Homo sapiens: one gene and its partner. The protein of the gene in region 1 purifies or fractionates together with the protein of each later gene. This does not show direct contact. Each region holds a gene or a part of one and is shown in the gene's direction. Other genes may lie near its edges.

Evidence for each region. Proteins that work in one complex are often made in the same cells at the same time.
Region 2: the proteins of EDN3 (region 1) and MGRN1 purify together in Homo sapiens (co-immunoprecipitation; 2 studies listed by BioGRID and IntAct, with this or other methods). This does not show direct contact.

The regions. Positions count from the first base shown.
Region 1 is NC_000020.11:59,306,328-59,311,132, forward strand, and holds part of EDN3 (endothelin-3 isoform 1 preproprotein), read left to right. Parts: intron 1-4,805. UniProt on the Homo sapiens protein: Endothelins are endothelium-derived vasoconstrictor peptides.
Region 2 is NC_000016.10:4,626,896-4,631,700, forward strand, and holds part of MGRN1 (E3 ubiquitin-protein ligase MGRN1), read left to right. Parts: intron 1-4,805. UniProt on the Homo sapiens protein: E3 ubiquitin-protein ligase. Mediates monoubiquitination at multiple sites of TSG101 in the presence of UBE2D1, but not of UBE2G1, nor UBE2H. Plays a role in the regulation of endosome-to-lysosome trafficking.

The DNA.
Region 1 (4,805 bases):
TGCTGCCCTTGAGTCCTGGCCATGACTATCTGTGTGGCCTTGAGCCAGGAGGTGCTGTTGCCTCTCTGTGACCCTCTGGAAGGTGCAGACATCAGCCGCTCCAGGACAGTGAGCTGCCAAGTCTCTCCTAATCCCAACAGTCTGATCAGCTCCTATCAAGATGCCCAGGCCGGCTTCCCAGGCTGCCCTGGATCAAGCCACACTAAACTTAATCCAGCAGGAATGCCATTTCTTTTGAGTTTTTTTCTCCCCTAAATGCATAAAGAGTAAAAAAAAAAAAAAAAAAAAAAAAGCATTAACAAAACATTTAAACTTGTATTTTAATGTATTCTACCACAAAAGGGCAGCATCACAGATTCTGGCTTTGCCTTCTGTGTTCTTCAAGAAAGGCATCTTGGCATGGTCTCAAGAAGAGATATTCCAAATTTTAGAACATCCCAATAGAACGGTTGGATCTGGAACCCCAACTTCCTGCACATGAGGAGCCAGCTGAGCACCAGAATGTGATTTTGGGATCCCGATAAAAGTCACCCTGGGCCAGGCGCGGTGGCTCACACCTATAAACCCAACACTTTGGGAGGCTGAGGTGGGCAGATCACTTGAAGTCAGGAGTTTGAGATGAGCCTGGCCAACATGGTGAAACCCCGTCTGTACTAAAAATACAAAAAATAGCCAGGCATGGTGGCATGTGCCTGTAGTCCCAGCTACTGGAGAGGCTGAAGCAGGAGAATCACTTGAACCCAGGAGGTGGAGGTTGCAGTGAGCAGAGATCACGCCACTGCACTCCAGCCTGGGTGACAGACCAAGATTCCATCTCAAAAAAACAAAAGTCACCCTGACCTGTGAGCCACACCTGGCAGTATCATTGTTGGACATGTGGCCATATGAGGCAGAGGGCCAGTCTTTCTGCCATCATGGTTTTGGAAAGGGGTCATGAATAGTCTGCTACTAATCATGGATGGTGAGGATGGCTGACCATGACTGTGACCTCATGTCATCTCATGGGATCAGCTTGACAGCCCCATTAGTTGGATGCTATTGTCCCTGTAGTTTACAGGAAGAAGCTGAGCCCAGGAGGCGGAGTCAGTTGGCCAAGGTTGCAGAGCTTGTGAGTAGGGACTGGGCTGCCAGCCCAGAAGTTTGGCCCTGAAGCCTGCCCTGTAAGCCTCCTCCTGTGTGCATGTTCCCAACATGGGCTTCTTAGGTGACTAATATGCCATCTTAGATGACTCCTGCTTTCGTTCATTTAATATGTTTTCCCAGAGTGCCTCACCTGGGTCAGTATTGAATGGGGCTCTGGGACCCAAGAATGAATAAAAGACATGGTTCCCCATCCGTGACTGATTAAGGGTGGTTTTGTTCTTTTTGAGACAGTGTCTCATTCTGTCGCCCAGGCTGAAGTGCAGTGATGCAATCATAGGTCACTGCAACTTTGAACTCCTGGGCTCAATCGAATCTCCCACCTCAGCCTCCCGAGTAGCTGGAACCACAGGTGCGTGTCACCATGCCTAGCTAATTTAGTAATTTTTTTTTTTTTTTGTAGAGATCGGGTCTTGTTACATTGTTAGGGCTGGGGTTTTGTTCTTTTTGATAGTGATGATTCATATATATAATTCTATGTAATCATATATTTACCCTTTTGCAAGATTATTTTTATTAACATATGTTAACACATGGGCAAAACCCAAATCCTTGGTCCATCACAAGTCCTAAATTTTATTCTGGAAATGTAGCCTTGGCTTGCATAGAAGCATGTGATTTTCCTTTAGCCTACCAGAGCCCTTGGTGGTTTCTCTGTGGGTAAGAGGGGCTGGTTGAGTGTGCACTCCAAGCAAACCAGAAGGTTTGTCCTGATGTCAGAGATGCTGGGACAGAGGGGGCTGAGTCTAGGCGAGAGGGCGAGGGACCCCCAGGCCATGAGTCTCATTCCTGGTGCAGGATTTTTCTTTTCTTGGCTGCTGCTCTGTGCCTTGTTCTGTCTTCTTGCTTCTTGGTGTGGTTACGGGAGCAGGGCAGACATAGGAGGTGGGACTGCTCAAATCCATCTCTTCTTGCAGATCCAGCTTCACACTTTGGTTTAGAGACTCCTGGGGTTTAGAGAGGAATGGGGCCTGGGGCCCACTCATCCAAATTGTCACGTGGAGGAGGAACAGATCCCTTTGTAGGGGTTAAGAGCTCAAACTGTGGGCTCGAATGCCTGGGCTGAAATCTGGATCTGCCACTTAGGAGATGTCACCTCTGAGACCTTCAGTGTCCCCATCTAGAGAGTGGGGGAATAGATAGCACTCTATGAGGAAAGATGTTTTCAGGATGACACAAGAAAGTACACAGGGCGTGGTTAGCACAGCGCCTACAATCTAGTAAACACTCAACGTCTTGAAGATGGTGGCCACAATGATAACAACACAACCTCCAGCCCTGCAGAAGCCCTTCCTGGGCCAAAACCAGTCCTCCTGCCATATCCAATCCTGTGATTGGAGGATGCTGGCTGGTGAGTAGAAAGTCCTTGCTCAAGTTCTGCTGGGGTCCACCTCTTTGGACCTTCTGACTCTGATCTTAGCTCCTGGAGTGCCCCGGAGCAAACCTGTCCACCCTGTCCCCTGCAGGACGGTCTGTTAGCCTCAATTAGCAGAAAGCTTACAGACTCTGGGAAAAGGTGTGCCTGGCTGTCTGCTGTTGCTGATAAGCAGCCTGATAAAGACTCTGTGGTCAAAGGTTGCTGGGCTGGGCTGAGATTCAGTCCCGCCCTTCCAGCCCCTCCTTTCTGCTTTCTATTGCTTCCCTCTCCCCTTGGTAAATCACTGAAAGTTTTCAGTAATGGGGCATGGCGCTCTTTGCGGGCACCCGTCTGGGGCTGTGTCTGTGAAATAGGAGGTAGGGGTGGTGATTGGGGTGATTAGGGTCTCAGTTCAGGAGAACAGGAATGATCTGTTTACCTCTTTGTTAAACACCTATGCTGAGAGCTCTGTGAGGCATCTGTGGCTCTCATGTCCTTGGTACGTCCAGCAGAGTAGATATAATGCCTTGTAATTTGCAGCTGAGGACCCCATGGGGCACCAGTAGCCTCACTTCTGACTTCACCCAGCATTGCCCAGGACCTGAAGTGGGTGTCACCAACTGGGAGTCACCAGGAAGCAATCGAGGAAATCCCACAGACATCTATTTAGAAAACATCATTTCATGATGTGCTTTTGAGACGGGCATGTGAAAGAAGAGGGTGTTGGCCAGATTAAAAGGGACCCTGAGCTTGAGGTTCTGACTGATCATGGTTTCAGGAGGTTTTTCCCCTCACATAACCATTTCTATCTCTTCCTTAGAAATTAGCACACTTTTGGGTACCAGTTTTGAGTTGGAGTGGCATATTTCTTAGAACACTGGACGGCAAGATACTTCTTTAAAATTGGGGAGACTTAGGGCTAAGTTTCGCAGTTTGTTGGAAAGGTCAGTCCTACGAGGACTTTTCTGTTGGGGATGCACAGGTAGAAAGCCCGTTTTCTGCCCCAGAGTCAGCAGGAAGTGTGAGTGGTCCAGGAACAAAAACAGACTTGGTGGAATGCAACTAATCTCCACTTGGGAGACAGAGGGACTTGAGGCTGGAAGGCAGTTTGATTTGTAGCAAGAAAACTTGGTACAAAGAGGTTGTGACCCTGTGTGACCCCGAGGGAGAATTTGGATTTGTGCTAGATGAAAGGGCCATTACAGTGAGGAACTTGGCCTTCAATCTGAAGGCACATGAAAGGCTCTGATGTGTCTGGTCATGTTTGTTCCTGCAAGAATTTAAAACAAAGGAAGCTGGGAGGCAAACAATGCTTCTGCTTTATAATTCCAGTTCCAAACCTCAGAGGGGGAGCTGTAAAGGGTGACCCTGTCTACGGCACCACCCCGCGTTCCAGTGTATTGGAAGTGGATGGTCTCTGTTTTGCATGAGAAAGTGACCTGGTCTCCTTCCTTGTCATGTTTCAGTTGAAACAGAGTTCCTCAAAATTGGAAATGCACACACACATACACACAGACTTTTGCCCACTTTGGAATAGAAATTAATTGCACTCGGAAAATAAATTGCAGAGCATGGCTGAGTACAGACAGCCACATGTGAATGAATTGTTTGTCCGCATAGTTTTGGGGGCTTCGGAATCCTGGCTCACCCACCAAACCTCCCAAGAATAGACAGACAGGATGAGGCATCAGCTCTCTTTCTCATCTGCCCCACCTCAGAGTCTTAGGAGGGCCAAGAGCTTTGGGAGACCTTGGGGACATTCACAGGCTTGGAAGCACTGGCCTCTTCTTCTTTTGTGGCCTCCTCAGGGCAGACTTGGTGGGAGCTCTTAATAAACAGTAACTCAGGAACAGAACAGTCAGGGAGGCCTGGTCCCTGGCCCAGTAATTGAAAAACCAGAAACAGCTTCATTTCATATGCATTGATGACAAAAGTACCGACAGACGCAACCAAAAACATGACTGGCCCGCTGGTGGACAGTTTCGCCCCACAACTTGGGGAGCGCAAATTGCTTTGCCGAGAGTCAGAAGCAACTACATGAGACAGCAGAGGTCCATGTAACTTTTCTGGATTTTTAGGAATCTGATTTCCATGGGTCTCTTGCAGGGCTGAGAATAGACTGGGGTGAGTGAGGCACTCCCTCATGTACAAACTTTCAGGAGGCACCAGAAAGTAGGAAAAAACAAGTAAAATGTAATGCACTATTTTCAGAAAGCCAAAATGAGTGCAAAAAAAAATTCATAATCGACCAAATATTGTTTTTAGTAAAGGCAGGATCCAGCCCTGAGCTTGCTCCACTTACCTCACC
Region 2 (4,805 bases), on another chromosome or scaffold:
TGTTCTGCGCCCATCCAGTCCACAGGTCCTCTCCAGCTGTGCTTTTTCCCTTTCTCTTCTCCATCCTTCCCTGGGGCCTTGCAGATACTTGTTCTTCTCTTTGTTCATCTCTTCTGGTCCTTGCCTTTGTGCCGCACTGGTTTCCTAGACTCCCCGCCTCTCCTGTCTCCTTAATGAGAACTCCGTCAGGTCAAGGGTGGGAGGCAGGCCGGGCCTCAGCAGCATTTTGGTGTGTTTCCCCAAGGGCAGACCGGGGACCGTGGAGACATTTGAGATGATTTTAGGGGTTGCCCCCATGGACCATTCAATCACCCGATGAGAAAGCTTTCTTTTCACATCTCTGTCAATTTTGTTGATTATGTCAAGGAGAAAGAGTCACTGGGTGGTAATATATGCATTTTTAACACCTAACACTGTCCATTTTTCTTAAGGGAACTTTCAGCATGTTCTGCAGCAGCGCTCAGCTTGAATTTAATATTTGCTTTGTTTTCACTATATCTGTTTTACTCTTCATAGCTTTATTGAGATGTAGTTCATGTACCACACAACTCATCCATTGTAAACATGATTTGATGATTTTTAGTTAAATTATAGAATTGTGCAGTCGTCTGGCCAGGCGCGGTGGCTCACGCCTATAATCCCATCACTTTGGGAGGCCAAGGCGGGCGGATCACAAGGTCAGGAGATGGAGACCATCCTGGCTAACACGGGGAAACCCCGTCTCTACTAAAAATACAAAAAAATTTAGCCGGGCGTGATGGCAGGCGTCTATAGTCCCAGCTACGCGGGAGGCTGAGGCAGGCTGAATTGCTTGAAGCTGAGAGGTGGAGGCTGCAGTGAGCCGAGATTGCGCCACTGCACTCCAGCCTGGGTGACAGAGCGAGACTCCGTCTCAAAAAAAAAGGCTGGGCGCGGTGGTTCACGCCTGTAATCCCAGCACTTTGGGAGGCTGAGGCAGGTGGATCACAAGGTCAGGAGATCAAGACCATCCTGGCTAACACCGTGAAACCCCATCTCTACCAAAAATACAAAAAATTAGCTGGGTGTGGTGGCGGGCACCTGTAGTCCCAGCTACTCAGGAAGCTGAGGCAGGAGAATGGTGTGAACCCAGGAGGCGGAGGTTGCAGTGAGCCGAGACTGCGCCACTGCACTCCAGCCTAGGTGTCAGAGTGAGACTCCGTCTCAAAAAAAAAAAAAAAAAAGAATTGTGGGTGGGTGCGGTGGCTCACGCCTGTAATCCCAGCACTTTGGGAGGCCGAGGCAGGCGGATCACGAGGTCAGGAGATCGAGACCATCCTGGCTAACACGGTGAAACCCCATGTCTACTAAAAATACAAAAAATTAGCCAGGTGTGGTGGCAGGCGCTTGTAGTCCCAGCCACTCGGGAGGCTGAGGCAGGAGAATGGCATGAACCCGGGAGGTGAAGCTTGCAGTGAGCCGAGATCACGCCATTGCACTCCAGCTGGGCGATAGAGTGTGACTCTGTCTCCAAAAAAAAAAAAAAAAAAGGAGGGGACATTGAAGCAACAACAACAAAAAAAAGAATTGTGCAGTCATCACCACAATTGCAGACATTTCCCTTGTAAAAGTTTCCTTCCATCTGTTTGCAGAGTCCCTACCCCAACCCCCACCCTCAGCCCATCAGCGATCTGCTTTCTTTTTTCTTTGAGATGGAGTGTTGCTCTGTCGCCCAGGTTGCAATGCAGTGGCATGATCTCGGCTCAGTGCAACGTCCGCCTCCTGGGTTCAAGCAATTCTCCTGTTTCAGCCTCCTGAGTAGCTTGGATTACAGGTGCGCACCACCACGCCCGGCTAATTTTTAAATTTTTGGTACAGATGAGGTTTCACCATATTGGCCAGTCTGGTCTCGAGCTCCTGACCTCAGGTGATCTGCCTGCCTTGGCCTCCCAAAGTGCTAGGATTACAGGTGTGAGCCACTATGCCCAGCCTTTTCTGTTTTTTTTTGAGACAGTCTCGCTCTGTTGCCCTGGAGTGCAGTGGTGCAATCTTGGCTTACTGCAACCTCTGCCTCCTGGTTTCAAGTGATTCTCCTGCCTCAGCCTCCCAAGTAGCTGGGATTATAGGCACTGGCCACTATGCCAGGCTAATTTTTGTATTTTTAGTAGACACGGGGTTTCACTATGTTGGGAAGGCTGGTTTCGAACTCCCGACCTCAGGTGATCTGCCCACCTCAGCCTCCAAAGTGCTGGGATTACAGGGGTGAGCCACTGCACCTGGCCTGCTTTCTGTTCGTATGTGTGTGTGTGTGTGTGTGTGTGTGTGTGTGTGTGTGTGTGAAAAGTGTCTATTTGAGTCTTTTGTCCAATTTTCAAAAACTGGATTGTTTATCTTACGGAGTTGTAACAAAGAGTTCTTTATGTGTTCTGGATAGGATTCTCCTGTCAGCCATGTGATTTGCAAATATTTTCTCCCAGTCTGGCTTGTCTTTTAATTTTCTTAATGGTGTTTCTTTTGAAGAGCAAAAGTTTTGAATTTTGACGAAGTCTCATTTACTGCTTTTTAAGTGGATACTGCTTTTGGAGTTATGTTTAAGAAATCTTGGGCCCAGGCATGGTGGCTCACGCCTGTAATCCCAGCACTTTGGGAGGCCAAGGTGGGCGGATCATGAGGTAAAGAGATTGAGACCATCCTGGCCAACATGGTGAAACCCCATCTCTACTAAAAATACAAAAATTAGCTGGGCGTGGTGGCACACACCTGTAGTCCCAGCTGCTCAGGAGGCTGAGGCAGGAGAATTGTTTGAACCCGGGAGGCGGGGGTTGCAGTGAGCCTAGATCGCGCCACTGCACTCCAGCCTGGTGAAAGAGCGAGACACCGTCTCAAAAAAAAAAAAAAAATCATACAGGCGGCTGGGTGTGGTGGTTCATGCCTGTCATCTCAGCATTTTGGGAGGCTGAGGTGGGCGGATCACCTGAGGTCAGGAGTTCGAGACCAGCCTGGCCAACAAGGTGAAACCTCGTCTCTACTAAAAATACAAAAATGAGCTGGACGCAATGGCGCACGCCCGTAATCCCAGCTACTCAGGAGGCTGAGTCAGGAGAATTGCTTGAACCTGGGAGGTGGAGTTGGGTTGCAGTGAGCCAAGATCATGCCACTGCACTGCAGCCTGGGCAAACAGTGAGACACCATCTCAAAAAAAAAAAAAAAAAAAAAGCGCAGGTGCAGTGGCTCGCGCCTGTAATCCTAGCACTTTGGGAGACTGAGATGGGTGGATTGCCTGAGCTCAGGAGTTTGAGACCAGCCTGGGCAACATGGTGAAACTCCATGTCTCCTAAAATACAAAAAATTAGTTGGGTGTGGCAGCATGTGCCTGTAGTCCCAGCTAATTGGGAGGCCGAGGCAGAAGAATCGCTGGAACCCGGAGCGCGGCAGAGGTTGCAGTGAGCCGAGATTATGCCACTGCACTCCAGCCTGAGCGACAGAGTGAGACGCCGTCTCAAAAAAAAAAAAACAAATAGAAAGAAAAGAAATCTTTGCCTAGGTCAAGGTCACAAAGATTTTCTCCTATTTTTTTCTAGCATTTTGTTGTTGTTGTTGTTGTTGGTTTTTTTTGAGATGGAGTCTCCCTCTGTCACCCAGGCTGGAGTGTAGTGGCATGATCTTAGCTCACTGCAGCCTCTGCCCGGGTTCCAGCGATTCTTCTACCTCAGCCTACTGAGTAGCTGAGATTACAGGTGCGAGCCACCACGCCCGGCTAATTTTTGGATTTTTTAGTAGAGACGGGGTTTTCACCATATTGGCCAGGCTGATCTCAAACTGACCTTGTGATCTGCCTGCCTTGGCCTCCCAGATTGCTGGGATTACAGGCGTGAGCCGCTGTGCCCGGCCTTTTCTAGAAGTTTTATAGTTTTAGCTCTTACATTTAGGTCTTTGATCCATTTAGAGTTAATTCTTTTTTTTTTTTTTTTTTTTAATTTTGAGATAGGGTCTTACTCTGTCATTCAGGCTAGAGTATAGCGGCATGATGTCACTCTAGCCTTGACTTCCTGGCTCAGGTGATTCTCCCACCTCAGCCTCCCAAGTAGCTGGGTTTTCCCAGCTATGTATGTGTACCACTATGCCCAGCAAAGTTTTTGTATTTTTTTTGTAGAGACAGGGTTTCACCGTGTTGTCCAGGCTGGCCTCAAAGTCCTGGACTCAAGCAATCTGCCCACCTTGGCCTTCCAGAGTGCTGGGATTACAGGTGTGAGCCGCTGTAGCTGACCAAATTAATTTGTTTCACTTATGGCTTGAGATAAAGATCTAAACCCCCCTTTTTTGTGGATGGAATTCAATTATTTTAGTATCATTTGTTGTAGAGACTATCATCTTCCCATCAAATTGCCTTTGCACCTTTGTCAAAAATTAGTTGACCTAAGCCAGGCATTGTGGCTGGATAACAAAGCAAGACCATGTCTCTTAAAAATCAAAACAACAGCGACAAGAACCCCACCAGTTAACCATGAATGTGAGGGTTTATTTTGGGACTCTCCATTCTGTTCCATTGATTTATGTGTGTCCCAGAAGTTCTCAACTGGGGCATTTTTGCCCTCTCAAGGGACATTTGGCCATGTCTGGAGACATTTGTGATTGTCACAGCTGGGGGCATCTGTTGGGTAGAGGCCACAGGACAGTCCCCCACAATTAAGAATAAATCGGCCCAGAATATCCATAGTGCTTAGACTGAGAAATCCTGGTCTGTTCTTAGACCAGCAGCACACTGGCTTGTTTACAGTAGTTTGATAGTAAGTTGTGAAATCAGGTAGCATAAGTTCTCCAACTTTGTTCTCTTTCAAAATTGTTTT